2 linked regions of the Homo sapiens genome follow. The gene in region 1 interacts genetically with each later gene. Each region holds a gene or a part of one and is shown in the gene's direction. Other genes may lie near its edges. The genes, in order: UPF3A and FUS.

Region 1 (15,382 bases):
CGGGAGGGAAAGAGGTCAGGAGATGAGCTGAGCCTGGCCGTGCTGAGCAGTGGAGGAAGGAAGCGCCAGGGGCAGGGCCGGCTGCTGTCGCTTTTCACTGCAGGCGCAGAGTGCAGGCTTGTGGGGTTGGCACACATGGGTGAGGGCAGCGTGGTTGGAGGTTCAGGGCACTGCAAGACATTTAGATTCATTCCAGGGCAACTGGAAGCCACTGGGGGAGTAGCATGGTCTGATTATTTGTCCCCGTCACTTTGGTGGTGTCACATGGGATAGACTGTGGATGCCAAGAGATGAGCGTGTGTTTTGGAGGTGGGCTGGACAGGACCGACAGACGGATAGGGTGTGGGAGGTAAGGGGACAGGAAGAATTAAGACTCCAGTGCTTGGCTTGAACAGATGGGTGGATTGTGGCACCATTATACACAAGGGAACATGAGGGTAGGACAGTATTGGGGGCAAAGTCGAGATTTCACTTAAGAACTTGATAAATTGAAGAAGAGCTAGAAGCAGCAAATTAGACGTTATTACAGGCCTCATCTCCCTGCCCCTCCCATTTCCATCTCACTTTGTTTTAAATGTCCCCTTGCAAAGGATCGGTCACTTTAGGGCTGTTTTGAGACATACCTTTTTGGGGCAGACACGTGGCTCCTGCCGGGGTGGGGAGAGGGGGGCATGTCCTGGCACCTCCCCGAGAGTCTGCTGCACAGCCAATGCTTCACAAAAGTTGGCTGAATGAATGAATGAATGTGGCTTAGAACCCACCATCCCTGATGGGAGCGATTAATTCATTCCAGGACTTGGCTGTAGAGTCTTCCTTGTTTCTGTGATTGCTGTTTCTATGTATGAAAAATTGAAACTTGGCCGGGTGCGGTGGCTCACACCTGTAATCCCAGCATTTTAGGAGGCTGAGGCGGGCAGATCATGAGGTCAAGAGATTGAGACCTTTCTGGCCAACATGGTGAAACCCCGTTTTTACTAAAAATACAAAAATTAGCTGGGCGTGGTAGCATGCGCCTGTAGTCCCAGCTACTTGGGAGGCTGAGGCAGGAGAATCGCTTGAACTCGGCAGGCGGAGGTTACAGTGAGCCAAGACCACGCCACTGCACTCCAGCCTGGCGACAAAGTAAGACTCCATCTCAAAAAAAAAAAAAAAAAAAATTTTAGGCAATTCATGGCAGATTACCTTTTTCTTTTCTAAGCTTTTGGCCTCCAGTGGATTCTTCTGCACAGGTCTGAGAAGCAAGTGTTAAATGGAAATACTAATAAGCTGTTTCTGGCAAGGACTCTGGAGTTGTTGAGTTAGTCTGGTGCATCGGCCTTTAGCATCGGCCTTTAGAGCAGACAGGCCTGGGTTCAGCTCTGAGACTTCTGTTTACTTGTGTTCTGTTGCATGGTTGTGCGTATTCTGTCTGATAAATAACATACTTTTATGATGTGTAGAACACTTTCTTATTCAGGGTCTAACGTACTTTGCCCGTGATCCCTGTGGGTGATAGGGCAGACATTTTATAGGAAGAGGAAGGTGGGCAAGCGGAGTCTGGGGTCAGCCTCCCCACACATCCAGGTGGTCTCGCCCGGCTCCTGGCTGACAAGTTCAGGCTTTCCACAGAGCAGAGCAGAACCCTGGCTGATTTGAGATAATTTGCCCATTACAAAGAGCTGACCATTTACCTGAGCCAGTGTGCTGTACTCACCCTGAGCCAGAGTTCATGGTCAGCCCAGGGACCCCTGGGGGAGTGTTCTCTGTGGCAACTGTGTCTGCCACGAAATGTGGCATTTGTACCTGCATCAGCTCTTCCCTACAACCACTGTGCCTGGGGCAGGGCTCCTGGGACAATCGGCTCTTCCCTACAACCACAGACTGTCCCTGGGGAAGGGCTTCTGGGACAGGTGCCATTTCATCTATGATGTCAGGGTGTCAGGGGTTCTCAGTTCCAAGTGATGGATCCCTGGCCAGGGCTTCTCCTATGATTCCTGATTCATTCCTGGTCCTCAGAATTCCAGAGATGATGTGTCAGTTTTCAGGTACATCCAGGGATTCTTCCCAGCCCTGTTTAGTCTGAGATCTTACAGACCCACAGAGTAGACCCCGTCTTCCCCCTTCCCATTTGTGTCCTTGTGTTGGTGGGATGTGGGGCCTGTCCATGTCAGCGCAAGTCCCTCTGAGGTGGGGCCTGTGGGGCCTCTAGCTTGCCTGGGCACCCACATCCAGGTCAGATCTGAGAGGTCGGGCATGAAAGCGAAGGACCAAGATAGAGTCTGTAGAAATGTTCATTCCCTAGTAGTTGGTGCCTTTTCTGCAATCAGCAGCGCCATATGGAGTCATTTTCTTTTTCTTTTCTTTTTTTTCTTTTTTTTTTTTTTTTGAGGCAGAGTTTCGCTGTTGTTGCCCAGGCTGGAGTGCAGTGGCGCAATCTCGGCTCACTGCAACCTCCTCCTCCCGTGTTCAAGTAGTTTTCCTGCCTCAGCCTCCCGAGTAGCTGGGATTATAGGCGCGTGCCATCACGCCCGGCTAATTTTGTATTTTTTCAGTAGAGACGGGGTTTCCTTAGGTTGGTCAGGCTGGTCTCGAATTCCCAATCTAAGGTGATCTGCCCGCCTTGGCCTCCCAAAGTGCTGAGATTACATGTGTGAGCCACCACGCCCGGCCCATGTGGAGTCATTTTCTAAACTACAATCCAGAGTTGTATGTCTTATCATTGGGATTTTATGGAGTATATATTGTAAGACATTACAAGAATCCATGTTATTTTAAAACTGTTGCTTGGAGAACGGAAAACGAAAAAGTTCTCAGAATATGCGATGTATCAAAATAAATATATGTTATTTAATGATTTAAGGCACCTACAAAAATATCATCTTGGAATATTTTAAGCCTCCCTTAAGAATCAGGAATTAGATGTCTACTATGTATGAAATTGTTGATACTTTCAAATTACTTGACCTGACAGTAATGGAATAAAAACTCCCCTGGAGACAGTGTGTAAATTTAAAAAGTAATGATATGGTTCCCGTATTTATTTTAAAGATTACATTCAAAACAAGTATTTAAAATACATCTTTCTTTAGGAGTTAAATACAATATTACAATTTTTGTGTTTTAGCTAGAAGAACCACACCTCTTTTGGAATATATTAAAAATAGAAAATTAGAAAAGCAGGTAGGTCTGGCCTTTACCTGATGAACACCCTCCCTGCTTCTGCCATTCTCATCCAGGCAGTTTATACACACGCTCTTCCATGTCTTTAGAGAATTCGAGAAGAGAAGCGAGAAGAACGGAGGAGGAGAGAGTTAGAAAAGAAACGTTTGCGGGAAGAGGAAAAAAGAAGAAGAAGAGAAGAAGAAAGATGCAAAAAAAAAGAGACAGATAAACAGAAGAAAATTGCAGAGAAAGAAGTAAGGATTAAGGTAATTCTGAGGAAACATTTCCTTTTTCCAAAAATAGCTCTGCTATAGTAATTACACTTTTTACATATCTTAGTTCTTTAGAATTTTGAAAACATTCTGAATTAATCTAATATTGTGTTGTTATTTTTTTCCATCTTTTCCATCTTTCTTTCCATCCTACAGCAGTGGTTATCACAGTGCGTCCTGAGCCCTGGGAGTCCTCAGGCTGCTGTTGGGTGCCTGTCCTCCTGGGTGTGCAGTGGGGAGCACACCCCACAGGAGCCCCACGCTGGCACACGTTGGGCTGCTGCTGACGCTCTTTTTTTTTTTTTTTTTTTTAAACTTTCCAACTTTCATTTTCGGCTCAAGGCGTACATGTGCAGGTGTGTTACATGTTCATTGTCAGCTCAACGCGTACACGTGCAGGTGTGTTACGTGTTCATTTTCGACTCAAGGCGTACACGTGCAGATGTGTCACATGTTCATTTTCAGCTCAAGGCGTACACGTGCAGGTGTGTTACGTGTTCATTTTCGACTCAAGGCGTACACGTGCAGATGTGTCACATGTTCATTTTCGGCTCAAGGCGTACACGTGCAGGTGTGTTACGTGTTCATTTTCGGCTCAAGGCTTACACGTGCAGGTGTGCCACATGTTCATTTTCGGTTCAAGGCGTACACGTGCAGGTGTGTTACGTGTTCATTTTCGGCTCAAGGCGTACACGTGCAGGTGTGCCACATGTTTATTTTCGGTTCAAGGCGTACACGTGCAGGTGTGTTACGTGTTCATTTTCGGCTCAAGGCGTACACGTGCAGGTGTGTTACGTGTTCATTTTCGGTTCAAGGCGTACACGTGCAGGTGTGTTACGTGTTCATTTTCGGCTCAAGGCGTACACGTGCAGGTGTGTCACATGGGTAAATCAAGTGTCACTGGGGTTTGGTGTGCAGATAATTTTGTTGCCCAGGTAATCAGCACAGTACCTGATGTTTTTCAGTCTTCACCCTCCTCCCATTCTCCACCCTCTACATTTTCCTTTAAAAAAAAGTTTTCCTCCCAGCACTTTGGGAGGCTGAGGCGGGCAGATCACGAGGTCAGGAGTTCGAGATCACCCTGACTAACATGGTGAAACCCTGTCTCTACTAAAAATACAAAAATTAGCCAGGTGTGGTGGCGGACGCCTTAATCCCAGCTACTCAGGAGGCTGAGGCAGGAGAATCGCTTGAACCCAGGGAGCAGAGGTTGCAGTGAGCCGAGATCGCGCCATTGCACTCCAGCCTGGGCGACAGAGCAAGACTCCCTCTCAAAAAAAAAAAAAAAAAAAAAAAATTTCCTGGCCGGGTGGGGTGGCTGACACCTATAATCTCAGCACTTTGGGAGACCGAGGCAGGCGGATTACTTGAGTTCAGGAGTTTGAGACCAGCTTGGCCAATATGGGGAAACCCCATCTCTACTAAAAACACAAAAATGAGCCGGACGTGGTGGCGTGTGCCTGGAATCCCAGCTACTCAGGAGGCTGAGGCAGGAGAATCACTTGAACCCAGGAGGCGGAGGTTGCAGCGAGCCGGGATCGCGCCACTGCACTCCAGCCTGGGCAACAGAGCAAGACTCTGTCTTAAAAAAAAAAAAGTTTCCCTGATTAAAAAATACACATTTGAAAACCACTGGTTTTGCCTTTCTGTGTGAAGGCTGACTCAGAACCGGGTTTTATCATTTCTTTGGCAGTAGCACTAATGAGTTTCTGTATTTCTTGCTGAGTTTTTTCTGTGACTGATACATTCATTTATGAGGGTGGTTTAATACATAGAGGGAATTTTTCTCTGTGTGAAATGTGTTGGCCAGAATTGGGACCAGCCATTATCTCCTCAGTACTAAACCTAGATTTGAACCTAAGGTATCACTCATTACTTATTATTTATTGAATACCTTATATTCAATAATATTGTACAATATGAGGAAAAAAATGAAATGTCAGGACTTGGGGAAAGAAGATAGCTTAGGAAAGGGTGGGGAAGAGATCATTGAACCATAGATTTGTTTCTGATATGGTCAGCAGTCAAAAACAGAAAAGTTGGCTGGGTATGATGGCTCATTCCTATAATCTCAGGACTTTGGGAGACCAGGGCAGGTGGATTGCTCTAGCCCAGGAGGTCAAGACCAGCCTGGGCAACAGAGAGAGACCCTGTTTCTGTTTTTTGTAGAGATGGGGTTCCCACTATATTGCCCAGGCTGGTCTCGTACTCTTGGACTCAAGTGATCTTCCTGCCTCACCCTCCCAAAGTTTGGGGATTACAGGCGTGAGCCACCATGCCTGGCCTGGTTTAGCTTTTAATAAGTATCTGTGCTCAGTATGGGGGTCTTTCACTTCTAAATCATGTGGAAAATTGAAATTCTTTTAATGCCTGAAAAATGGAATCTGTGGAGAAATGCAAAAGAAGGTGTATCAACAGCTTAAAGAAAGACAGATGGCTCATGGCTATTTTGCTATTTTTTTGTTTGGTTTTGGTGGGGGGGGGGTTTGAGACAGGGTCTCAATGTGTCACCCAGGCTGGAGTGTAGTGGCACAGTCACAGCTCACTGCAGCCTCTACCTCCCAGGCTCAAGTGATCCTCCCGCCTCAGCCTCCCATTACAGGGGTGCAACATCATACCTGAATAGCTAATTTAAAAAAAAATTTGTAGAAGTGGGGGTCTCACTATGTTGTCCAGGCTGGTCTTGAACTCCTGGGCTGAAGTGATCCTCCCACTGCTGGGGTTAGAGGCATGAGCCACCGTGCGTAGCACTCATGGCTATTCTTAATAAAGAGAAATATGGTTTGGGAGGCCGAGGCGGGCGTATCACGAGGTCAGGAGATCGAGACCATCCTGGCTAACACAGTGAAACCCCATGTCTACTAAAAATACAAAAAAATAGCTGGGCGTGGTGGCACACGCCTGTAGTCCCAGCTACTCAGGAGGCTGAGGCAGGAGAATCGCTTGAACCTGGGAGGCAGAGGTTGCAGTGAGCTGAGATCACGCCACTGCACTCCAGCCTGGGCGACAGAGCGAGACTCCGTCTCAAAAAGGCTGGACCGCGGTGGCTCACACCTGTAATCCTGGCACTTTGGGAGGCCGAGGTGGGCGGATCATTAGGTCAGGAGATCGAGACCATCCTGGCTAACACGGTGAAACCCTATCTCTACTAAAAATACAAAAAATTAGCTGGGCGTGGTGGCGGGAGCCTGTAGTCCCAGCTACTTGGAAGGCTGAGGCAGGAGAATGGCATGAACCCGGGAGGCGGAGCTTGCAGTGAGCCAAGATTGCGCCACTGCACTCCAGCCTGGGCGACAGAGCAAGACTCCGTCTCAAAAAAAAAAAAAAAAAGAAAAGAAATACGGCACACAGAACAGCTCAGCTGTTTAATGTTCCTCTGAGGATGCTAAGCAGTGAGCTTATGTGTGGCCACATGGGTGAACACACACAGGCGAGGGCTGGGAGGGAGCACAGCTGCCCATGCGCTCCGCTTGGCCTCCGGAAGCCTTGCAGGGCGTGGCAGAGCTGGCCTGCTCCCCAGCTCGTCTCCAGCAGCTCTGGCCTGCTCCCCAGCTCGTCTCCAGCGGCTCTGGCGTGCTCCCCAGCTCGTCTCCAGCGGCTCTGGCGTGCTCCCCAGCTCGTCTCCAGCGGCTCTGGCCTGCTGGTTTCTCATGAATGCACCAGCGGATTCCACCTCAGGACTCCGCACGTTTCCCTCCACAGGGACTTCCCCAGATGTGCCCGTGGCTCCTTCTTGGCATCTGGTCTTAGTTCCCGTCTTGGCTCTGCAGAGAGCCCTCCTGGGCCCTCCTCTTCCTGCGTCTCTGATGCTTTACTCTCCCTTCATGTCTGTTCGTAGCTTTTGATGCTACCTGAGGTTATCTTATTCCTTTGTTTCCTTTTTCATATTTTTGCCACTGTTCACAGCATTCCCCCTTGACCACCGTTGCCTCAGGTGGTGCATCAGGCGCAAGTTCCTTCGAGGCAGGGGCACCTCTTGTCTCATTCACAGCCATTCCCTAGTGCCTAGCACAGGGTCTTAGGCCCTGGTTCCTGCACACAGCTCCTCAGACCTCGGGAATCTGCAGTAATATGAGTGTCTTATATGCCAATGAGAGGACTAGGGGCTGGGGGCCCCAGGCAGCTTCAGGATGGGGACTAGTTGGCCAGAAAGCCAAGGCAGGACTAGAGGGTTGGGACTTTCAGTCCCACCCTAGCCTCCGAGAGGGCAGAGGGCCTAGAGAGAGGTCACCGGTGGCCAGTGACTTAATCAGTCACACCTACATAATGAAACCTTAATAATGCCTAAAGACAGGGCTTCCAGGGGCCAGGCACAGTGGCTCACGCCTGTAATCCCAGCTCTTTGGGGGGCCAAGGCAGGTGGATCCCGAGGTCAGGAGTTTGAGACCAGCCTGGCTAATATGGTGAAACCCCGTCTCTACTAAAAATACAAAAATTAGCCAGGCATGGTGGCGCATGCCTGTAGTCCCAGTTACTCAGGAGGCTGAGGCAGAAGAATCGCTTGAACCCAGGAGGCGAAGGTACAGTGAGCCGAGATCGCGTCACTGCAGTCTAGCTTGGGTGACAGAGCAAGACTCCATCTCAAAAAAAATAAAAAAAATAGACGGGCCTTCCGGGTTGGTGAGCACATCAAGGTGCTGGGAGGGTTACTGCATGGAAGCTCCAAGTACCACTACACCATACCCCATACCCACCTTGTGCATTTTTTCCGTTTGGCTGTTCTGGGTTGTATCCTTTATGATTAGCCAATAATCGAGAAAACAGTGCCTTTCTGAGTTCTGTGAGCCATTTCAGCAACTTACCAAATCTGAGGAGAGGCCATCGGGAACCCCTGAATTTATTGCTGACTGGTCAGAAGTACCGGTGACACACTGGGACTTGGAACTGTCGTCTGAAAGGGGGGCAGTCTTGTGGGACTGAGCCCTTGACCCGTGGGTTCTGGTGCTAACTCCAGGTCGATGATCTCAGAGTTGAGTTGAATGTGGAGCACGCAGCTGGTGTCGGAGGGGTGGTATTGAAAAAGACGTGCAGTGTCAGAAATGTAAGAACAGTTCCTAGGCACACAGAATATTTGTTGAATGGGTGGATGGAGATTTGCACTTCCTATGGTTCACATTTATTACAGACATGTTACTGTTGCAATTTTTATAAAAGATGGGCAGTTACCAGAAAGGAAATGTTTAAGTTCCCAGATTCCACATAGGCAGAATAAGAGGATGTTCACAGCTGACATGGGGCCCACGCTTGATGAGAAGCGGCTTCCAATGCTCCACCTTGCATGATGCGTTGTGTTCCCAAGTGAACACGTGTGATTGAATGCATCTGTGTATGGTCTTGCTATGCTGCAATTATGAGTGAGAACAGAATTCTCAGATGTACACCTTCCATTTCTGTTCTACAAATGATCTGTCTGTGGTGCTTCCGTTTTTTTTTTTTTTCTCCCTTTTCTCAAGTTAGCTGAGGTGCTTTAGTTTCAAAAACTATACAGAGAGCAGGGAGAAAGGCCAGGGGCATACAGGGCAGATGAAATATGTCGTGGCGACTTGTTCATTAATTCTGTTTCAGGAAAGAGAATAATCAGTGTTTTGAAAACTATAAACTATTCTAAAAATCATCAGTAGGAAGCAGCCTTTTAAAAATTTTTTTTTCCTTATTACAAAACTAATACTTGTCTATGTCAGGAAAACTAGACCCTATAGATGAAAGGAAATAAAGTCATTTCAGTTCTGCCATCTAGAAATAATCACTATTGGCCGGGCATGGTGGCTCATGCCTGTAATCCCAGCACTTTGGGAGGCCAACGCTGGGGGATCACAGGTCAGGAGTTCAAGACCAGCCTGGCCAACATGATGAAATCCCATCTCTACTAAAAATACAAAAATTAGCCAGGCACGGTGGCAGGAGCCTGTAATCCCAGCTACTTGAGAGGCTGAGGCAGGAGAATTGCTTGAACCAGGGTGGCAGAGGTTGCAGTTAGCTGAGATCAAGCCACTGCACCCCAGCCTGGGTGACAGAGTGAGACGTCGTCTCAAAAAAAACAACAAACAAAAACTACAAAAGTTAGCCAGGTGTGGTGGCACGCCCCTGTAGTCCTGGCTATTCAGGAGGCTGAGGCAGTAGAGTCGCTTGAACCCAGGAGACGGAGGTTGCAGTGAGCCGAGACTGCACCACTGCACTCCAACCTGGACGACAGAGCGAGACTCCATCTCAAAAAAGGAAATAATCACTATTAATACAGTGCTGCAGAGCCCTTTAGGTGGTGGTGTGTGTGTGAACATAAATAGAAGTGGGGGCTGGGCACGGTGGCTCACGCCCATAATCCCAGCACTTTGGGAGGCCAGGGTGGGTGGATTGCCTGAGGTCAGGGGTTTGAGATCAGCCTGGCCGACATACTGAAACCCCGTCTCTACTAAAAATACAAAAAATTAGCTGAGCGTGGTGGTGGGCGCCTGTAATCCCAGCTACTTGGGAGGCTGAGACAGGAGAATCACTTGAACCCGGGAGGAGGAGGTTGCAGTGAGCCAAGATCGTGCCATTGCACTCCAGCCTGGGCAACAAGAGTGAAACTCCATCTCAAAAAAAAAAAAAAAAATTAGACGGGTATGGTGGCGCATGCCTGTCGTCCCAGCTACTCAGGAGGTGGAGGCAGGAGAATCACTTGAACCTTGGAGGCGGAGGCTGCAGTGAGCCGGGAGTGCGCCACGGCACTTCAGCCTGGGCGACAGAGCGAGACTCTGTCTCAAAAGAGAAAAGTGTAAGTGAGATTGTGGTGCATGTTCTGTTTTTTAGCCCTTTATTCATTACGTGAACATCTTTGCATCACATTAACCTACCTTACTTTTCATGACTAAAAAATATTTCATTCACTGAATGTTCCACCACGTATTAAACCAAAAACCTCATTTTTGGACCTTTAGCTTTAATTCTTTGCTGTGCAAACATTTGGCTTCAATATTGGGGTATATTTGTAATTATTTATTTAACAGCTTCTTTTAAAATATGCTCTCAAGGTGATACTTTACTAACATTGTAATTTCTCAGCTTCTTAAGAAACCAGAAAAGGGAGAGGAACCAACCACAGAGAAACCAAAAGAAAGAGGAGAGGAGATTGATACTGGAGGTGGCAAGCAGGAATCCTGTGCCCCCGGTGCAGTCGTAAAAGCCAGGCCCATGGAAGGCTCGCTGGAGGAGCCCCAGGAGACGTGAGCGTGCTTTCATTGTTATGACCACGTCAGCTCCCAGTCATGGTGACGTAGGCTTTGTCAGTATGAGTATGCCTATTTCACACTGTTCTTGGAATCCAAGACTTTCCAGGGTGTGCGAGTACACGTTAGCCTTCATTTCCCATCAGCATGGCAGGAACGTAGTGAACTCGTCTTGTCTGCAGTCTCAAGTCTGTCTTCAGATCGGGAGTTTCTTCCTGTTGTTTGCTTTGCTTTTGCCTCCATGTCCTCCTTTTACTCCTGAGCCGCCTCCTGGATTCCTGCTGTTGCATGTCAGGTCTTCAGGATCTGTCTTCCCAGTCTTTCTTTTTGTTTTTTGTTTTTTATTTTTCTCTGTGTTTGTGATATCTTGCCCTTTGCTCTTTTATCCCCCTTGCAATTTATCTACAGAATTGCATATTTGGGAACCCCCTCTTTTAGGTCTGGCAGATCTTTTGTGATAGAGAAACAGAATTTTAAGTGCTGTGATCCTTTGGTTGAAGCTGTCCCTGGCTCCTCTGGCTGTGGATCTTGACCAGCAGCTTTGGCTGTGCACTGTGGGTCCTCCCTTTTTCTTTTCCTTTGCTGCATATGACAGTGCAGCTCTATGGAGGGAGCTCATCTGCGAAAGGGACAGACACAGCATTATCTGCCCGGTGGGCCAGAGAGACCAGCCAGATGCCAGTCAGGAGGGATCCTGTCCCTCTTGCTCCTGGCATCCACCATCCTCAGGGCCCCAGGCACCTGGGCTTACCTTCCCCTCCGGGACTCCTGCCCACTCACTGCCTCTCGCCACCCACAGTCTCCTGGTGCCCAGGGCCACTTGGCCCACAGGGGATGATGGACGTGGATTTTAGGTGGGAAGACTAATGCGATTAGGCTGCCGGCTTCCCAGAGCCATAGTCGTAGGTGTGATTTCTCACTGCCTTTCGTTCAGAGTTGATGAAGTATTTTTTCTACTTCTTGGGAGTTTTGGTTTATTGCTTTGTTTATAAAATTTATATATGATTATCAAATCCATGATTGTGAAGCACTGTGATGATGTTACCGGTGTTGTTACTGTGACAGTTGATGACACAGCAGGACCTACTGCCACGTGTCTGCTGTGAATTCATACTTGGTTACAGATCCTTATGGTCCCCAACAGCCCTGGCAAATGAGCGAAGCAGCCATTTATTTACTATTCATTTAATATTCTGATAAATGCATAAAGATAATTAATCTGCCATTATTAAATGTCAGTTAATTTTACTCTGCACATCATGATGGATGTGCACCTGGGCTCCCAGGACAGCCACTGGACCACTTTAGTCTCAGTCATTTTATCTGTAGAAAAGAAGGTTTATTTTATTTTGTTTTATTATTTTATTTTATTTTAATTTTATTTTTGAGACAAAGTCTCGCCCTGTCGCCCAGGCTGGAGTGCAGTGGCACGATCTCGGCTCACTGCAACCTCCGCCTCCCAGGTTTAAGCAATTCTGCTTCAGCCTCCCAAGTAGCTGGGATTACAGGCACCCGCCACCATGCCTGGCTAATTTTTGTTTTTTTTTTGTTTTTTTGAAACGGAGTTTTCCTCTTGCCCAGGTTGGAGTGCAATGGTGCGATCTCAGCTCACCACAACCTCTGCCTCCTGGGTTCGTGCAATTCTCCTGCCTCAGCCTCCTGAGTAGCTGGAATTACAGGCATGCCCCTCCATGCCTGGCTAATTTTGTATTTTAAGTAGAGACAGGGTTTCTCCATGTTGGTCAGGCTGGTCTCGAACTCCTGATTTTAGGAGATCTGCCTGCCTTGGTCTCCCAAAGTGCTGGGATTACAGGTGTGAGCCGCTGTGCCTGGCCTAATTTTTGTATTTGTAGTAGAGACAGGATTTCATCATGTTGGCCAGGCTGCTCTCAATCTCCTGACCTCAAATGATCTGCCTGCCCCTGGCGTCCCAGAGTGCTGGGATTACAGGCACATGCCACCACACCTGGCTAATTTTTGTATTTTCAGTAGAGAGGGGGCTTCACCATGTTGACCAGGCTGGTCTCCAACTCCTGGCCTCAGGTGATCCCACCCACCTTGGCGTCCCAAAGTGCTGGGATTTACAGGCGTGAGACACCATGCCTGGTCAAAAGAAGGTATTTACTTTGGAGGGTTATTGAGAATTAGAAAATATGTATAAAAAGTACCTTAGCATGGCCAGGCACGGTGGCTCACACCTGTAATCCCAGCACTTTGGGAGGCCAAGATGGGCATATCATAAGGTCAGGAGATCGAGACCATCCTAACTAACACAGTGAAACCCCGTCTCTACTAAAAATACACAAAAAATTAGCCGGGCGTGGTCGCGGGCACCTGTAGTCCCAGCTACTCGGGAGGCTGAGGCAGGAGGATGGTGTGAACCCAGGAGGCGGAGCTTTCAGTGAGCTGAGATCCCGCCATTTTACTCCAGCCTGGGCAACAGAGCGAGACTCCATCTCAGAAAAAAAAAAAAAAAGTACCTTAGTATAAGGCATATTGCCTATCTGTCACTCAACTGAAATGACAGATACTATTACTATGATTTATTCCTCTTTGTAGTGGTTTTTATCAACGCCTGCTGTGTGCCCATCGCAGTGCAGCCTCAGCAGTGCAGCGCTGAGCACTTCGCATGGGTCCCTGTTGTCTGGGAACCTGTGGTCTAGAAAGGAGGGTGGGCAGCCAACCGGCGGTTTACTGCAGTTGCTGATCATTTGTGTTGAATCATAGGTCACACAGCGGCAGTGATAAAGAGCACAGGGATGTGGAGAGATCTCAAGAACAAGAATCTGAAGCACAAAGATACCATGTGGATGACGGCAGGAGGCACAGAGCTCACCACGAGCCTGAACGGCTTTCCAGAAGGAGTGAGGATGAGCAGAGATGGGGGAAAGGACCTGGCCAAGACAGAGGGAAGAAGGGGAGCCAGGACAGCGGGGCTCCGGGGGAGGCCATGGAGAGACTGGGAAGAGCGCAGAGGTGTGACGACAGTCCAGCACCCAGAAAAGAGCGACTGGCAAACAAGGTTTTTATTAAACCCAAAAAGAAAAATGTGTCTGGCTGTCTTAAGGTCCAGGCTGCATGCTGACCATGTCACCCCCACTTGGCCTTGTGTCTTGGGGAACGCAGTGCTTTGAGCATTTTCAAGAGCAGTTTTTCCTGAAAGTCAGATCCCAGAGTGAGACTAGTCATCATCTTTTCTCAGATAATCAAATTATTTTTCACCAGGAAAAAGAAAGATTTTATTTAGTATAAAACTAGCACGTTTATATGATTCACTTGAGAATAAGATTATTAAATTTACCCTTGAGACAGGAAGGAAAGTTTTAATGATATTTCATGGAGGTTTCTTCCACATTATTAACAACATTCTGATTATTGGTGAATATTCCCATGGCTCACAAACACCTGTAAGTTAGATCTGCACGGACGGTGAGCACAGGACTGTGGTTACCCCCTTAGCCAAGCAAACAACTTTTTTTTTTCAGGAGCTAATTTTTGTTCAGGTTGCATTTTCCCAGCGCAGCACTACAGATGGCATCACCTTTCTGACAGCACCAGGCCCCACCCTGGCCTCCTAGCAAACTGAGGGCTGCCTAGGGTTCCAGTTCCCACTCACCTCCCTCCCCATGTCTAACCCCTGGCAGCCACTGTCTGTTCTCTGCCTCTGTGATTTTGTCATTTCAAGAATGCTTGATAAATGGAAACACACAGTATGTGAGCTTTGAGAGTGGCTTTCTTCACTCAGTCTAATTCCTTTCAGATCCTTCCAGGTTGTTGTGTGTATGAACGATGTTCACTTTGAAACTGTTTCAGTGTAGCTGGGCATGGTGGCTCACACCTATAATCCCAGCACTTTGGGAGGCTGAGGCGGGTGGATCACCTGAGGTCAGGAGTTCGAGACCAGCCTGGCCAACATGGCGAAACCCTGTCTCTACTAAAAATACAAAAAATAGCTGGGCGTGGTGGCGCGCCTGTAATCCCAGCTACTCAGGAGGCTGAGGCAGGAGAATTGCTTGAACCTGGGAGGCGGAGGTTGCAGTGAGCCAAGATGATGCCATTGCACTCCAGCCTAGGCAAGAAAAGCAAAATTACCTCTAAAAAAAAAAAGTTTCAGTGAAGTCAAGGCTGAAAGCCAGAGGAGAGCCTTCTTGTCTTCACCCTTGAATGAACACCTCTAGAATACTCCAGTTCTCTGGGGTTGCCTGGACCTCGGGGTGCACAAAGTACAGCCATGCGTCTTTTTGATAGGGCGTTGCTCATAGGAGTCCTCAGTCTTCAGTTGGCTTATTTTAGCAGTGGTGAATGGCCTGGTGTTTCCCCCGACCTGAGGTGGGGGAGCATTTGCTCCTGTGTTTAGCCTCACAGTGCTGTGGTGGGAATGAGGCGCTGTGTGCAGGAGCTACTTTCCCGGGAGCCTGGCATTTGTCATGTACTTCTAAGGTCAGGCTCCATGCTCCATCTGTGTATACAGGTATTGCCCTGGTAAGAAGCAGAATTGTCGGCCCGGTGCGGTGGCTCATGCCTATAATGCCAGCACTTTGGGAGGCCAAGGCGGGTGGAACACCTGAGGTCAGGAGTTCGAGACCAGCCTGGCCAACATAGTGAAACCCCATCTCTACGGAAAATACAAAAATTAAGCGGGCATGGTGACACATGCCTGTAATCCCAGCTACTCAGGAGGCTGAGGCAGAAGCATCACTTGAACCCAGGAGGCAGAGGTTGCAGCGAGCCCAGATTGCGCCATTGCACTCCAGCCTAGGCAAC
Region 2 (16,285 bases), on another chromosome or scaffold:
GTGTGAGCCACTGCGCCTGGCCAAATGTGTGTAATTTTTTTTTAGCTGTCCCACAGAGAAAGAACTCTTCTCAGTAGTTTTACATGTATCTTCCTGGAAATATTTGCAAATTAATCTGAAAAAAAGTATACATACATATTTGGCATATTAGGGTTTAAATCACCTTGCAGGGTCAAACATAAACAAGTTTCTTCTTCTTTTTTTTTTCTTTGAAACAGAGTCTCTCTCTGTCGCCCAGGCTGAAGTGGCGCAATCACGACTCACTGCAGCCTTGAACTCCTGGGCTTAAATGATCCTCCCTCCTCAGCCTCCCCAGTAGCTGGGACTACCGGCATGTACCACCATGCCTGGCTAATTTTTTTTTTTTTTTTGAGACGGAGTTTCAGTCTTATTGTCCAGGCTGGAGTGCAATGGCGCGATCTTGGCTCACCGCAACCTCTGCCTCCTGGGTTCAAGTGATTCCCCTGCCTCAGTCACCCAAGTAGCTGGGATTACAGGCATGGGCCCCCATGACTGGTAAATTTTGTATTTTTTTTAATAGAGACGGGGTTTCTCCATGTTGGTTAGGCTGGTCTCCAACTCCCGACCTCAGGTGATCCTCCCGCCTCGGCCTTCCAAAGTGATGGGATTACAGGCGTGAGCCACCACGCCCGGCCTAATTTTTTAAAGTTTTTGTAGAAACTGGGTCTGGCTATGTTGCCCAGGCTGATCTCGAACTCCTGGGCTCAAGTGATCTTCCAACCTTGGCCTCCCAGAGTGCTGGGATTACAGGTGTGAGCCACTGAGCTTGGCCTTAAGCATAAAGAAGTTTCTTCGTTCTTTTGCGTATTTGTTCAGAAGCCCCTGTACTGATACCCTCTCTCACTCTTCTCCCTTTTCCTATTTAGAGCTAGAGAATCTGTAGCCCAGAGTCCTTGAAAAAGGCAAATGATATGGAATTGTTAACAGATCCTTTTACTTTACACTTTTTTTTTTGAGACAGAATTTCACTCTTTTTGCCCAAGCTGGAGTGCAATGGCGCGATCTAGGCTCACTGCAACTTCCGCCTCCCGGGTTCAAGCGATTCTCCTGACTCAGCCCCCCGAGTAGCTGGGATCACAGGCGCCTGCCACCATGCCCAGCTAACATTTTGTATTTTTAGTAGAGACAGGATTTTGCTATGTTGGCCAGGCTGGTCTCAAACTCCTGACCTCAGGTGATCTGCTTGCCTCGGCATGCCAAAGTGCTGGGAATACAGCGTGAGCCACCATGCCCGGCCTAAGTTACACTTTTGGTTTGTTTGTTTGAGACAGTGTCTCTGTTGCCTAGGCTGGAGTGCAGTGGCGCCATCTCGGTTCACTGCAACCTCTGCCTCCCGGGTTCAAGCGATTCTCCCACCTCAGCCTCCTGAGTAGCTGGGACTACAGGCACACGCCACTACGCCCGGCTAATTTTTGTATTTTTAGTAGAGACAGGAGTTCACCATGTTAGTCAGGCTGGTCTCGAACTCCTGACCTCAGGTGATCCGCCTGCCTTGGCCTCCTAAAGTGCTGGGATTACAGGCATGAGCCACAGCGCCTGGCACACTTTTGTTTTTGTCTTTGAGAAACAGTTTTGTTCTGTGGCCCAGGTTGGAGTACAGTGGTTCAATCATAGCTCACTACAGCCTTGACCTCCTGGGCTCAAGTGATATCCCCCACCATTTCAGCCTCCCAAAGCTCTGGGATGACAGGTGTCAGCCACTGTGCCTGGCCACACTGCATTTTTGCAAACCAGGTACCAGGACGCTCAATTTGTTTCCCTGGGACCTTTAACCTGTTTGGAAATAGACCTGGCACAATGATTGGTCAATTTCCCATCTATCACTGTGACTATTGCATACCTTGCCCCAGGCCCTTTTCCTGCCTCCAGGAGGACTTTCTGCAGTTTTCCCTCAGACCCAGCACTGTGTTGCCCTTTTCATTTTTTTTTTTTTTTTTTTTTAGTGTTTAACCTCGTTTTTAAGTTCATACTAAGGTACAAATGGCTTCTTCCTTCTTTGTTTTTGCTTTTTTTTTTTTTTATTGATCATTCTTGGGTGTTTCTCACAGAGGGGGATTTGGCAGGCCGCCATCCCACCTAGGAAGTGAGGAGCGCCTCTTCCCCGCCGCCATCCCATCTAGGAAGTGAGGAGCGTCTCTGCCTGGCCGCCCATCGTCTGAGATGTGGGGAGCGCCTCTGCCCCGCCGCCCCGTCTGGGAGGTGAGGAGCGTCTCTGCCCGGCCGCCCCTTCTGAGAAGTGAGGAGACCCTCCGCCAGGCAACCGCCCCGTCTGAGAAGTGAGGAGCCCCTCCGCCCGGCTGCCACCCCGTCTGGGAAGTGAGGAGCGTCTCCGCCCGGCAGCCACCCCGTCCGGGAGGGAGGTGGGGGTCAGCCCCCCGCCCGGCCAGCCGCCCCGTCCGGGAGGGAGGTGGGGGGGGTCAGTCCCCCGCCCGGCCAGCCGCCCCGTCCGGGAGGTGAGGGGCACCTCTGCCCGGCCGCCCCTACTGGGAAGTGAGGAGCCCCTCTGCCCGGCCACCACCCCGTCTGGGAGGTGTACCCAACAGCTCGTTGAGAACGGGCCATGATGACAGTGGCGGTTTTGTGGAATAGAAAAGGGGGAAAGGTGGGGAAAAGATTGAGAAATCGGATGGTTGCTGTGTCTGTGTAGAAAGAAGTAGACATGGGAGACTTTTCATTTTGTTCTGTACTAAGAAAGATTCTTCTGCCTTGGGATCCTGTTGATCTGTGACCTTACCCCCAACCCTGTGCTCTCTGAAACATGTGCTGTGTCCACTCAGGGTTAAATGGATTAAGGGCGGTGCAAGATGTGCTTTGTTAAACAGATGCTTGAAGGCAGCATGCTCGTTAAGAGTCATCACCACTCCCTAATCTCAAGTACCCAGGGACACAAACACTCTGCCTAGGAAAACCAGAGACCTTTGTTCACTTGTTTATCTGCTGACCTTCCCTCCACTATTGTCCTGTGTTGCTCTTTTCTAGTTGGTCCAAGCAGGTCTTTTCTTAGCACAGGCCAATTATCTGCCCAGCATTTACTTTCCCAGTCTGTGTACCATGACAACCTCTCCTAGAGACACAAAATCTGAGTGGGCCCCATGCAGACAGGGGCACTTCCTGTCCTGGGCACTGCCCAAGGAGATAATAAAGCAATTATTTCTTGCTTGAAGCAGTACATCTTGAAGGACGAGTGAGAGAGAAAAGGTCATTTATTCATGCCTACTATGTTCTAGGCCCAGTTAAGGGTATTTGCAGATGGAAATGTCATTTAATATTCCCAGTAGAAGTTGCTTTTTTTGAGACAGTTCTTGCTCTGTCTCCCAGGCTGGAGTGCAGTGGTGCAATCTCCACTCATTGCAACCTCTGCCTCCAGGGCTTAAGAGATCCTCCTACCTCAGCCTCCTGAGTAGCTGGGACCACAGGCGTGTACCACCAAGCCTGGCGAATTTTTGTATTTTTTGTAGAGACTGGTTTCGCCATGTTCAAGACCAGCCTGGGGTCTTGAACTCTTGGACTCAAGAAATCCACATGCTTTTGCCTCCCAAATTGCTGTGATTAGAGGTGTGAGCAATCCCAAGCCTGTTGTTTTGAGTGATGTGAAATAGCAGGTTGTCTCATACCTCAGTGCCTCTGCTTAGGAATGTGACCGTTTCGTCCTGCATGAAATCCTCTGTTCAGAGCTGAAATGGGGCTGAGTAAAATTCAGCTCCTGCTCTCCTCCCCAAGTCTTCGGCCTTGGGGGGCAGAGTTGGGCGGGGGGTGGGTTTCTGCCTGGAGGAAGGGATGCCTTTTCCTAATTTGCACAAAGATGTGCAGCAGGCTAGAGGTGGGGCCTGGGTCTGGCCCCAGCCATCTCTCACCATCCCTCCACGCTGTTCCCCAGGCCAGAGTGCTCCTGAGGGGAGGGCCTTGCCTGCTCTTCCTCCCTTGCCCTTCTACACGCCTGCTCTTCCTCCCTTGCCCTTCTACAGGGACCCAGCTAGGGCAGTGGCACACGTCTGTGGTCCCAGCGCTTTGGGAGGCTGAGGTGGGAGAACTGCTTGAGGCCAGGAGTTCGAGGTTAGAGTGAGCTATGATTGCACCATTGCACTCAAGAAGCCTGGGCAACAGAACGAGGTCCTGTCTCTAAAATATAAATACATACAAGAACCCAGCTAAAGTGCCTGGCCAGGACAGGCTCTGGGTCAAGCTTGCTCTCTTCTGTTCGTACAGTTTTTGTACTGAGAAATGCTTCATTCGTTCAGTTGAAATGTCAACTCCTCGCTGGGCACAGTTGCTCATGCCTGTAATACCAGCACTTTGGGAGGTTGAGGCAGGAGGATTGCTTGAGCCCAGGAGTTTAAGACCAGCCTGGGCAATTGTAGGGACCAGCCCCACAGGGTCGGTGGGCTTCTCCCTGTGTGCGGTGACCAGAGAGTGTAGAAATAAAAGACACAAGACTAAGAGATAGAAGAAAAGACAGCTGGGCCCGGCGGACCACTACGACGAATGCGTGGAGACCGGTAGTGGCCCCGAATGTCTAGCTGTGCTGTTATTTATTGGATACAAAGCAAAAGGGGCAGGGTAAAGAGTGTGAGTCATCTCCAATGATAGGTAAGGTCTTGTGTCCACTGGAAAGGGGGCCCTTCCTTCCCTGCCTGGCAGCCGAGGCAGAGAGAGAGAGAAGACAAAGAGAAAGACAGCTTACACCATTATTTCTGCATATCAGAGACTTTTAGTACTTTCACTAATTTACTACTGCTATCTAGAAGGCAGAGCCAGGTGTACAGGATGGAACATGAAGGCAGACTAGGAGCATGACCACTGAAGCACAGCATCACAGGTAGATGGTTAGGCCTCCGGATAACTGCGGGCGAGCCTGACTGATGTCAGGCCCTCCACAGGAGGTGGAGGCGCAGAGTCTTCTCTAAACTCCCCCAGAGAAAAGGAGACTCTTTTTCCCGGTCTGCTAAGCAGCGGGTGTTGTTCCTTGACACTTTTCGCTACTGCTAGACCACGGTCCACTTGGCAATGGGCGTCTTCCCAGACGCTGGGGTCACCGCTAGACCAAGGAGCCCTTCTGGTGGCCCTGTCTGGGCATAACAGAAGGCTCGCACTCTTGTCTTCTGGTCACTTCTCACTGTGTCCCCTCAGCTCCTATCTCTGTATGGCCTGGTTTCTCCTAGGTTATGATTATACAGCGAGGATTATTATAATATTGGAATAATGAGTAATTGCTACAAACTAATGATTAATGATATTCATATATAATCATATCTAAGATCTATATCTGGTATAACTATTCTTGTCTTATATTTTTTTATACTGGAACAGCTCATGTCCTCGGTCTCTTGCCTTGGCGCCTGGGTGGCTTGCCGGCCACAGGCAATGTGATGAGACCCAGTCTCTACAAAAAACAAAAATGCTGGGGCGTGGTGGTGTATGCTGCTGGGGAGGCTGAGACGGGATGATCTTTTGAACCCAAGAGATTGAGGCTGCAGTGAGCAGAGATTGTACCACTGTACTCCAGCCTGGGCGACAGGGCGAGACCCTATCTCAAAAAAAAAAAAAAATAGCTGGGTGCGGTGGGTTACGCCTGAGTCCCAGCACTTTGGGAGGCTGAGGCGGGTGGATCACAAGGTCAGGAGATCGAGACCATCCTGGCTAACACAGTGAAACCCCGTCTCTACTTAAAATACAAAAAAAAAATTAGCCGGGCATGGTGGTGGGCGCCTGTAGTCCCAGCTACTTGGGAGGCTGAGGCAGGAGAATGGCGTGAACCTGGGAGGCGGAGCTTGCAGTGAGCCGAGATTGCACTACTGCAGTCCAGCCTGGGCGACAGAGCGAGGCTCCATCTCAAAAAAAAAAAAAGTCAACTCCTCAGTGAAGGCTGACCCACCCTACTCACTGCAAAAGTAATCACTCTTCCCCTGTGGCAGGTCTTACCCTGTATAATACCCTCCTCAGCTACCATGCTGTGGTGCATTGTAGGAGTCAGTTTGCTTTTAAATTGGTCATTATATGCACATAGTGAAAAATTAAAATATAAAAGGATCTAGGAAAAGTGAATTTCCTTCAATCCTTGACCCCAAGTTCCCCAGATTCCTTCCTCAGAAATAGGCTATGACTTGTTTTTCTTCTTCCAGAGATATTTTATGCATAAGTAAACACATATATATATATATCCCTAACTGTTCTCCTTCTCTTTTTCTTTTTTCTTTTTTTTTTTTGTGACAGGGTCTCACTCTGCTGTTCAGGCTGGAGTACAGTGGCACAGTCATAGCTCACTGCAGCCTTGACCTCTTGGATAGTACCCCACCCCCCTGCCCCAGACTCAGCCTCCCAAGTAGCTGGGACCACAGTCACACACCACCAAACCCAGATCATTTTTAATTTTTTTGTAGAGACAGGGTCTCACTATGTTATTAAATGATCCTCCTGCCTCGGCCTCCCAAAGTGCTGGCATTACAGGAATGAACCACTGAGCCTGGCCCTCTTTCTTTTTTAGAAACCCAAATAGAGGCCGGGCACAGTGGCTCACGCCTGTAATCCCAGCAATTTGGGAGGCTGAGGCGGGTGGATCACGAGGTCAGGACATTGGGACCATCCTGACAAACATGGTGAAACCCTATCTCTACTAAAAATAAAAATACAAAAAAATTAGCTAAGCGTGGTGGCGGGCGCCTGTAGTCCCAGCTACTCTGGAGGCTGAGGCAGGAGAATCGCTTGAACCCGGGAGGCGTAGCTTGCAGTGAGCCGAGATCGTGCCACTGCACTCCAGCCTGGGTGATAGAGCGAGACTACGTCTCAAAAAAAAAAAAAAAACAAAAACCCAAATAGAGGCTGGGCATGGTGGTGCAGGCCTGTAGTCCCAGATGCTGGTAAGGCCAAATTTGGAGGATTGCTTGAACCCAGGAATTTGAGGCTGCAGTGAGCTTTGATTGCACCACTGCACTCCAGCCTGGGTGACAGATTGAGATCCTAACTCAAAAGAAAAAAAAAAGGAGGCCAGGCATGGTGGCTCACGCCTGTAATCCCAGCGCTTGGGAGGCCAAGGCAGGCAGATCATGAGGTCAGGAGTTCGAGATCAGCCTGGCCAACATGGTGAAACCCCATCTCTACTAAACGTACAAAAATTAGTTGGGCGTAGGGGCACGTGCCTATAATCCCAGCTACTCGGGAGCCTGAGGCAGGAGAATTGCTTGAACCTGGGAGGCGGAGGTTGCAGTGAGCCGAGATCGCGCCACTGCACTCCAGCCTGGGTGACAGAGCAAGACTCAATCTCAAAAAAAAAAAAAAAGGCCGCTGTCATCACCACCGAGACCAAGAAGGCCACGAGACTCAGCACCTTCCTCAAGATTTCCTGGGCCAAGGAGCCAGTGCTGGTCTTGTCCTCTGTCATCCGGAGCCTCACTGTAATTCTACCCCCACTTAGTCCCCACACCAAGTACTCCATCATGATCAACGAGGCAAGGCCCTACAACTACCCAGTGCCTGTCTGCAATGATGGGAACATGCCCGATGTGCCCAGCCACCCCCAGGACCCCCAAGGCCCCAGTTTGGAGTGGCTGAAGAAATTGTGAGCACCTCCACTGCCAAAGGAGGACCCTCCCATGGCTCCCACTAGAAATGTGAAAACCAACCTCTCCCTGCTCAAAAAAAAAAGAAAAGAAAAAGAAAAATTGCATTAAATATTTGATCTAGGCCAGGCGCAGTGGCTCATGCCTGTAACTGTAACTCTAGCACTTTGGGAGGCCGAGGCAGGAAGATTGCTTGAGGCCAGGGGTTCAAGACAAAACTGGCCAACAAAATGAGACCTTGTCTTTAAAAAATAAATTCTGGGGCTGGGCGCAGTGGCTCATGCTTGTAACAGCACTTTGGGAGGCCGAGGAGGGGTGGATCACGAGGTCAGGTGTTTGAGACCAGCCTGGCCAACATAGTGAAACCCCGTCTCTACTAAAAAAAAATACAAAAAATTAGCCAGGCGTGGTGGCGGGTGCCTGTAATCCCAGCTACTTGGAGGCTGAGGCAGGAGAATCGCTTGAACCTGGGAGGCAGATATTGCAGTGAGCCGAGATCGCGCCATTGCACTCCAGCCCAGGCAACAGTGCGAGACTCCATCTCAAACAAATATATATAAATATAAATAAATATATATATATATGTAACTTCCTGGCACGATGGCACAGACCTGTAATCCCAGCACTTTGGGAGGCCGAGGCGCGTGGATCAGGAGGTCAGGAATTCAAGACCAGCCTGGCCAAGATGGTGAAACCCTGTTTCTACTAAAAATACAAAAAATTAGCCAGGCGTAATGGTGGGAGCTTGTAATCCCAGATACTCGGGAGGCTGAGGCAGAGAACTGCAAACTCCGGAGGCGGAGGTTGCAGTGAGCTGAGATTGTGCCACTGCACTCCAGCCTGGGTGACAGAGGGAGACTCTGTCTCAAAAAAACAAACAAAAAAATTAAATAAATAAATTAAAACTAACTAACTAAATAAATATCTGGATATCTGAGCTGGGTGCAGTGGCTCATGCCTCTAATCCCAGCACTTGGGAAAGCAAGGCAGGCAGATCATTTGAGGTCAGGAGTTCGAGACCAGCCTGGCCAACATAGGGAAACCTCATCTCTACTAAAAAAATTAGTTGGGTGTGGTGGTGCACATCTGTAATCCCAGGTACTCAGGAGGCTGAGGCAGGAGAATTGCTGGAACCTGGGAAGTAGAGGTTGCAGTCAGCTGAGATTGCAGCACTGCTCTCCAGCCTGGGTGACAGAGTGAGACTCTGTCTCAAAAAAAAATCAATATCTGATATACGTGTTTATTTTTTTATTGAGATGGAGTCTTGCTCTGTCGCCCAGGCTGGAGTGCAATGGCACAATCTCTGCTCACCGCAACCTCTGCCTCCCTGGCTCAAGCAATTCTCCTGCCTCAACCTCCCGAGTAGCTGGGACTACAGATGCGCGCCACCATGCCCGGCCAATTTCTGTATCTCTAGTAGAGATGGGGTTTCACCAGGTCGGTCAGGCTGGTCTCGAACTCCTGACCTCATGATCTGCCCACCTCAGCCTCCCAAAGTGCTGGGATTACAGGTGTGAGCGAACGCATCTGGCCCAATATCTGATATACATGTTAATTGAAACTGGGTGTGGTGGTCACACCTTTAATCACAGCACTTTGGGAGGATTCCCTTGAGCCTAGGAGTTCAAGACCAGCCTGGGCAACATAGCAAGACCCTGTCTCAAAAAAGAAAAATTTAACATTGACTTTCCTGTCAGAGATAGGAAGTAAATAAGACATTTATGGTGAACTTAAAGCACATATGGCAGCTAAAGGTGACAGTGTCTCACTCCAGCTGACCCTTGCCCTATGGAAGTGGGCCTGGAATGGCCCACTATTTTTAGTGTTGGCAACTAGTTAAAAAAATTAAAACATTCGAGGCAGGTGGATCACTTGAGATCAGGAGTTCGAGAACAGCCTGGGCAATATGGTGAAACCCCGTCTCTACTAAAAATAGGAAAATTAGCTGGACATGGTGATGCATGCCTGTAATCTCAGCTACTCGGGAGGCTGCAGCACAAGAATTGCTTGAACCCGGGAGGCAGAGGTTGCAGTGAGCTGAGATCACGTCACTGCACTCCAGCCTGGGTGACAGAGTGAGACTCCATCTCAAAAAAAAAAAAAAAAGAAAGAAAGAAATGGCCATTTGATTTAGTCTTTCAGAGTCACATATTTTTTTTTTTTTGAGGCCGAGTCTCATCTGCCACCATGCCCAGCCCAGAGTCACAGCTGGAGCCTGAACTCTGCCTCAGTGTCTTCCCCACTTGTGCCTTTGTCTTCGCGGTTCTGCCTATTATAGCCTTTCCTCCCTTGCTGCTTGGCAAACTTCTACTTATCCAGTAAGCCTTGGCTTCAGGGTTACCATCTCTCTTTAGTGTTCTGTGGTTGTCCACCTGATGGATGACTTACTCTGCTGGCAGGGTTTCCAGTCTTTGATTCCATGTGATGGCACTTACTACACTCAAGTACACTTTGTGGTCTGTGTGTCTCACCCACATTCACCCACTGGCTGGTCCTGTGGTTTAGGAACTGAGCTTTTTTTTATCCATATCCATCCAGTCGGCCCCATGATTGGAACATACTATGCAGTGCTCAGGCAATGTTTGCTGAAGCGCAGGGGTTAAGAGCAGGCTACCTGGCTTGGGAACCCAGCTTTGCCACTTCCTGTGTAGCTTCAGCATAACTTTCCGTCTTTCTTTTTTTTTAGAGACAGAGTCTTGCTCTACTCTATCATCCAGGCTGCAGTGCAGTGGCGCGATCTCGGCTCACTGCAACCTCTGCCTCCGGGGTTCAAGCAATTCTCCTGCCTCAGCCTCCTGAGTAGCTGGGACTACAGGTGCGCGCCACTATGCCTGGCTAATGTTTGTATTTTTAGTAGAGACGGGGTTTCACCATGTTGGTCAGGCTGGTCTCGAACTCCTGACGTTGTGATCTGCCCTCCTTGGCCTCCCAAAGTGCTGGGATTACAGGCGTGAGCCACCGTGCCCGGTCAACTGCCTGTCTTTCTATGCTTATTTCCTCATCTGTAAAATGTCATCCTTAGCAGGGCGTGGTGGCTCACACCTGTAATTCCAGCAATTTGGGAGGCCAAGGCAGATGGATCATCTGAGGCCAGGAGTTCGAGACCAGCCTGGCCAACATGGTGAAACCCCGTCTCTACTAAGAATACAAACATTAGCTGGGTGTGGTGGCGCACACCTGTACTCCCAGCTACTTGGGAGGTTGAAGTTGTAGAATCACTTGAACGCGGGAGGCACATGTTGCAGTGAGCCGAGACGGCGCCCCTGCACTCCAGCCTGGGTGACAGAGTGAGACAGTGTCCCCCCAAAAAAAAAAAAGATAAAATGTCATCCTCACATCAGCCTTTTGTTGTGAAAAATAAAATCAAGAGTTTACTCAGTCAGAACAGGGCCTGACAGTAAGTCTTGTTAAAGTGTTAGCTATTACATATTATAGATGAGCACAATGTATATCATTATTAAATGTCAGCTTTATTATTATTATTTGTTTTGAGACAGTCTTGCTCTGTTGCCCAGGCTGGAGTGCAGTGGCACGTCTTGGCTCACTGCAACTTCCGCCTCCTGGGTTCAAGCGATTCTCCCATCTCAGCTTCCTGAGTAGCTGGGATTACAGATGCGCGGACGACGCCTGGCTAATTTTTGTATTTTTAGTAGAGACGGGGTTTCACCATGTTGGCCAGGCTGGTCTCGAACTCCTGACCTCGTGATCCACACGCCTCGGCCTCCCAAAGTGCTGGTATTACAGGCGTGAGCCACCGCACCCGGTCAGCTTTATTATTAAATGTTAACTTCATCTGCTTTGTACACGAATGCATACCCAGTGCCCAGAACAGTGCCTGGAACATACTAGGTGCTAAATAAATATTTGTGACTTAATGCATGAATAAGGGTGGACTTCCTTTCTTTTGCTCTCACTGGAGAGTTGAACTCTCCTTCCAAAGGCGGTGGGGTGGATATTGGCATATTCAGGGCCTTTAGGGCTGAAGTCAAGGGCTTAGTGGGGCTTAATTTGTGGGCGGGCCCAGGGCATGGCCCTCATTGTTTCTCTAGAAAGACGTGTCCAACCCTCAAAGGACCTTCTGAAATCCCGCTGAAAGGTTAAGTTGGGAAGGAAAACCTGCATGCCTATGTATCAGGAATTAACGTCTTTTGTCTTGTTTTATTCAGTAGTTTCAAATTGCCTTCTCCAGGCAAGGCTGATGAAAGTGCAAGTTGCAAGTTAATTTGAATGTTTCTTTTTGCTTTTGCTCTCACAGGAAGTGAAAAGGCGACCAAACACTCTAGCATTCATGCCACCAAAAAGAGGAGTGTTTTGCAGTTACAAGACCTGGATTCGAATCACGACTCCTCTTAGCTGCCCTGTAATCAGGCACAATTACTTGGGTCTCTGAGTCTCACTTTCCTTATCTAGAAAACGGAGGTATCTTTACTTCCTTCGTAAGACTGATGACAAGGAAATTATCTGTGCATTTTGAAACCACTTAAGCCTTGTACACGTTTTATTTCTGGGATCGCCCTGGTAGGGCTTCAGAAAAATAAAAAGGAGGTCCCTGAGAAAAGGCTGGGTACCGTACATCTGAGGTCAACCCTCTCTGGTCCCAAGGATGGCCTGGGCTGTTCCGCCCCGTGGCTCCCCAGGGGCAAAGCCATGAGGATCCGGGTGAGAGCCCAGTGCTGGACGAGCCCGGGGCCCAGGGGTCCCGGCCGAAATCCCTGCTGTCTTTCAGGTCAAACGTCATAATCCCCGAACCCCAGAAAGGCCGAAAGGCAAGGCAACCCTGAAAGACGACGAAGTCAACCTCAGGGCGCAGGAGAGGGAGGGCCAGTGTGCTGCCGACGAGGGAGGCTGGAGCCGCGGGGACGAGGCGCCCCATACAGCGGCAAGAGGGTGGAGGGCAGGAGCTCGCCATCCTGGGTGAAAGCGGGGCCCAGCGAAGGGGCCCGGCCACAGGAATCTCGGTTCCACCCCGCTACTCCCGGCTGTGACTCCAGTTTCGTCCCCAGCCGCCGGGACCGCCCCCTCGCCCCGCCCCCAGCGGGCACTCAGGCCGTACCACTGTGCCTTCATGGGGGTGGAGATAGATCGTGGGCTAGTCCTGCCGAGGAGAGAGGGGTTCTTCCTCAAAAAATATGATTATGTATAGTATTCGCATGATTCTAGTTAACTTGTTTCCCTTCTGCCTGCTCGGACCCTCTACCTGCCCTACGAAGGGGGCGGAGTGCGTTCCTGCCTCCCCCTGCTCTTCCGCGTTTGGTGCGCGCCTGCGCGGTGCGTAGGCGGCGGAGCGTACTTAAGCTTCGACGCAGGAGGCGGGGCTGCTCAGTCCTCCAGGCGTCGGTACTCAGCGGTGTTGGAACTTCGTTGCTTGCTTGCCTGTGCGCGCGTGCGCGGACATGGCCTCAAACGGTAGGTAAGGGCGCGAGGCGACGGCGGCGGCGCACCCGGCCGAGGCCTCCCAGCTGGGCTTTTCGTTTTCAGTGGGACCGGGGCGGCGATCCCGTGTGGGATTTTTTGGCGCCCCTGTGGCGGGAAGCCGCGGAGAAGAGTAACTGGAGGAGGCTGGTGTCGCCATTTTGTTTCGCTCCTCTGGCCCTCGCGCGCGGGGCGGGAAGTCTTTTCTTTGCAGTCCGTTTGCTTGGGGTGGGCGTTGGGAGGGACGCTTCTTAGGGGTTTGAAGCGTCAGGTGAGGGTGGAAAACGCCCATTCTCCGTGGCCTCGCCTCCCCCAACTCCCGGCCCCGCGCTCGAGCCCGCTTTGTCGCAGTGCTGCATCCGGGCACTCGCGGCGCGCACGCGCTCTGCGGGCCCCTCCCCCTTCGCGGCGCGGGTACCCCTTCCCCGCCTCGTGTTGGTTCAGCTTTCTGTCGCGAGACCCTTCGCGGAAGACTCGGCGGCGCGCGTCCGGTGTGAGCCTTGTCCCTCAGTGGTCCTTCGCGAATGGGCGGGATCGCTCCGTTCCCGCCTGGGTTGCCACGCGGCTGGGGGCGGAGGCTCGGGATCGGGGCCGCCCTCTAGCTTAACGGTTTGGCGGCGGTGGTCAGGGTTCGACCAACGGACTTGGGGACGGCCCGAGAGTTTTTCCCGCCTAAATTTCTTTCTTTTTTTTTTTGGAGACACGGTCTTCCTCTGTCGCCCAGGCTGGAGTGCAGTGGTGCGATCTCAGATCACTGCAACGTCCACCTCCTGGGTTCAAGTGATTCTTCTGCCTCAGCCTCCTGAGTAGTTGGGATTATAGGCGCCCGCCACCACAGCCCGGCTAATTTTTGTGTTTCTTAGTAGGGGCGGGGTTTCACCATGTTGGTCAGGCTGGTCTCGAACTGCTGACCTCAGGTGATCCGCCCGCCTGGGCCTCCCGAAGTGTCGGGATTACAGACGTAAGCCAACCACGCCTGGTCTAAATTTCTTTTTTCTGAGATAGGGACGGAGAAGAACGGCCGCCCGAGGCCACACCCTCTCCTGGTCCTCTTTCCCTTTTCCTGCGGGGGAAGCGCCGCGTTTCCTGTGCTGGGAGGATGAGTTGATCTTGTTCGTGTATCTTAAGTGGGGCTTTTCAAAAGCGCTTTTGTTGCTTTTTGTTCGCTGGGGGAAGGCAGGGTAGGTGAGAAAACGGAACCATCTGGAGTCCCAGGGCTGGGGACTCGAGTACCTGTTGACTTTCGCCTCCTAAGGCGAGCAGTTGCATGATCTCTGTCATTTGGGGTCCAAGGGCTCTTTTGATTCTCTGGCTTTGCACTAAAAAGCCCACTTCATCTCCGGGATTGGTCAAAGAGTGAAGAATGGCCTTTTTTGAGACTTTCTTATTCTGTGGGTCTGGGCTGAGAGAGCAGAGGCCACAATCTGAACACTGTTCGAATTCAAACCTGTGCCACTTTGGTAGTTCTGCGACGTTGGGAGAGTTAGTCTCTTGACTCCTGGCGATAATGGCTTTCTCATAGAGTGGATGAAACGAATGCGCGATGTTTTAGAGCAATCACTGACATGAATTGGGCTTGCAGAAAATTGTGGATGTCCACCAAGACCTTGGTTTTTCCAATGGTTAAGGCTTCTGGGACTCTGTAGAAACTTGCATTTTCTTCACTTTTTCTTTATTGTAAGAACACTTGGCTGATAACGCCAGTTTGTTCCTCTTCTCAACCAGTGTCTCATGGAGGAATTTTATGCCCTTTGTTGCAACATGGTCCTATTTTTATTTTTTTTTTTGAGATGGAGTCTTGCTCTGTTGCCAGGCTGGAGTGCAATGGCTCACTGCAACCTCTGCCTCCCGGGTTCAAGCGATTCTCCTGCTTCACCTCCCGAGTAGCTGGGATTACAGGCGTGCGCCACCATGCCCGGCTAATTTTTTGTATTTTTATTAGAGATGGGGCTTCACCATGTTGGTCAGGCCAGTCTCGAATTCCTGACCTCAAGTGATCCACCCACCTCGGCCTCCCAAACTGCTGGGATTACAGGCATGATCCACCGTGCCTGGCCTACGTGGTCCTTTTTATTCATCAGTGCTTGAGTTAAGGAATTTAGCTTTAATTCAACTCTTTCAGAGTGGCAGCTGAAGATAATGTGATTGTATTTTTCTTTTGCAGATTATACCCAACAAGCAACCCAAAGGTGAGTGCTATTTTTGGGCTTCCAGAGTTTGTAGAGGGCAAGGGTGGTCACGCCATGTTTTCTGATCACGCTGGTTTTCCTTTTATTTAGCTATGGGGCCTACCCCACCCAGCCCGGGCAGGGCTATTCCCAGCAGAGCAGTCAGCCCTACGGACAGCAGAGTTACAGTGGTTATAGCCAGTCCACGGACACTTCAGGCTATGGCCAGAGCAGCTATTCTTCTTATGGCCAGAGCCAGAACAGTGAGTCTTTCTCAGCGGGTCACCTCTTCCTACTCTTTCTGAATATTGCTTTTCTTTTTCTTGTTTTTTGGAGACGGAGTCTGGTCCTGTTGCCCAGGCTGGAGTGCAGTGGTGCTGTCTCAGCTCACTGCAACATCAGCCTACCGGGTTCAAACGATTCTCCTGCCTCAGCCTCCTGAGTAGCTGGGATTACAGGTACCTGCTACCACGCCTGGCTAATTTTGTGTTTTTAGTAGAGATGGGGTTTCACCGTGTTGGACAGGCTGGTCTGGAACTCCTGACCTCCTGCCTGCCTTGACCTGCCAAAGTGCTGGGATTACAGGCGTCAGCCACAATGCCCTGAATGTTGCTTTTCTTAAACCTGAGCAGCACTGAGATGTTGAAACTGTTCCATATTTCTTTTCCGTGAAACAGTGTATAAGTCTTAAAACTTTTTGGGATCTGAGTCCTTTACAGGGCATTGTGGCACACCTGTAGTCCCAGCTACTGAGGAGGCTGAGGCGGGAGGATCCCTTGAATTCAGGAGTTTGGGGCTGCAGTGAGCTATGATGGTGCCTGTGAACAGCCACTGCATTCCAGCCTGGGCAGTGTGTTGAGGCCCCATCTCAAAAACATAAAAAAAAAAACAAAAAACAAAAATGTTTATTGGTTTGTGATTCTGTTTCCATTTATTTTCTTTGGCTTTTAATTTTTTTGACTCTTCTTATTTTCCATCAGCATGAAAGAGAGCATATTTTCTAAAGGAAGAACCAGTTTTAGGCCAATTCTGAAATGGAGAAAATGGTTTTGTTTGAAAATGTATGAAATCATGTGATACATAAGGAGGTGGGATTTGCCCCAAGGTCCTGAAGTGTAACTAAGAAAGGTG

What was found.
Region 2: of UPF3A (region 1) and FUS, extra expression of one rescues a mutant of the other (dosage rescue), as found in Homo sapiens cells (one study listed by BioGRID).

The regions. Positions count from the first base shown.
Region 1 is NC_000013.11:114,288,386-114,303,767, forward strand, and holds part of UPF3A (regulator of nonsense transcripts 3A), read left to right. Parts: intron 1-3,103; coding exon 3,104-3,159; intron 3,160-3,215; coding exon of another isoform or gene 3,216-3,248; coding exon 3,249-3,407; intron 3,408-3,413; exon of another isoform or gene 3,414-4,199; intron 4,200-4,285; exon of another isoform or gene 4,286-5,336; intron 5,337-6,965; coding exon of another isoform or gene 6,966-7,067; exon of another isoform or gene 7,068-7,723; intron 7,724-10,454; coding exon 10,455-10,615; intron 10,616-13,345; coding exon 13,346-13,640; exon of another isoform or gene 13,641-13,666; intron 13,667-15,382. UniProt on the Homo sapiens protein: Involved in nonsense-mediated decay (NMD) of mRNAs containing premature stop codons by associating with the nuclear exon junction complex (EJC) and serving as link between the EJC core and NMD machinery.
Region 2 is NC_000016.10:31,167,248-31,183,532, forward strand, and holds the start of FUS (RNA-binding protein FUS), read left to right. Parts: upstream 1-12,891; 5' UTR 12,892-12,967; coding exon 12,968-12,980; intron 12,981-15,150; coding exon 15,151-15,175; intron 15,176-15,265; coding exon 15,266-15,417; intron 15,418-16,285. UniProt on the Homo sapiens protein: DNA/RNA-binding protein that plays a role in various cellular processes such as transcription regulation, RNA splicing, RNA transport, DNA repair and damage response. Binds to ssRNA containing the consensus sequence 5'-AGGUAA-3'.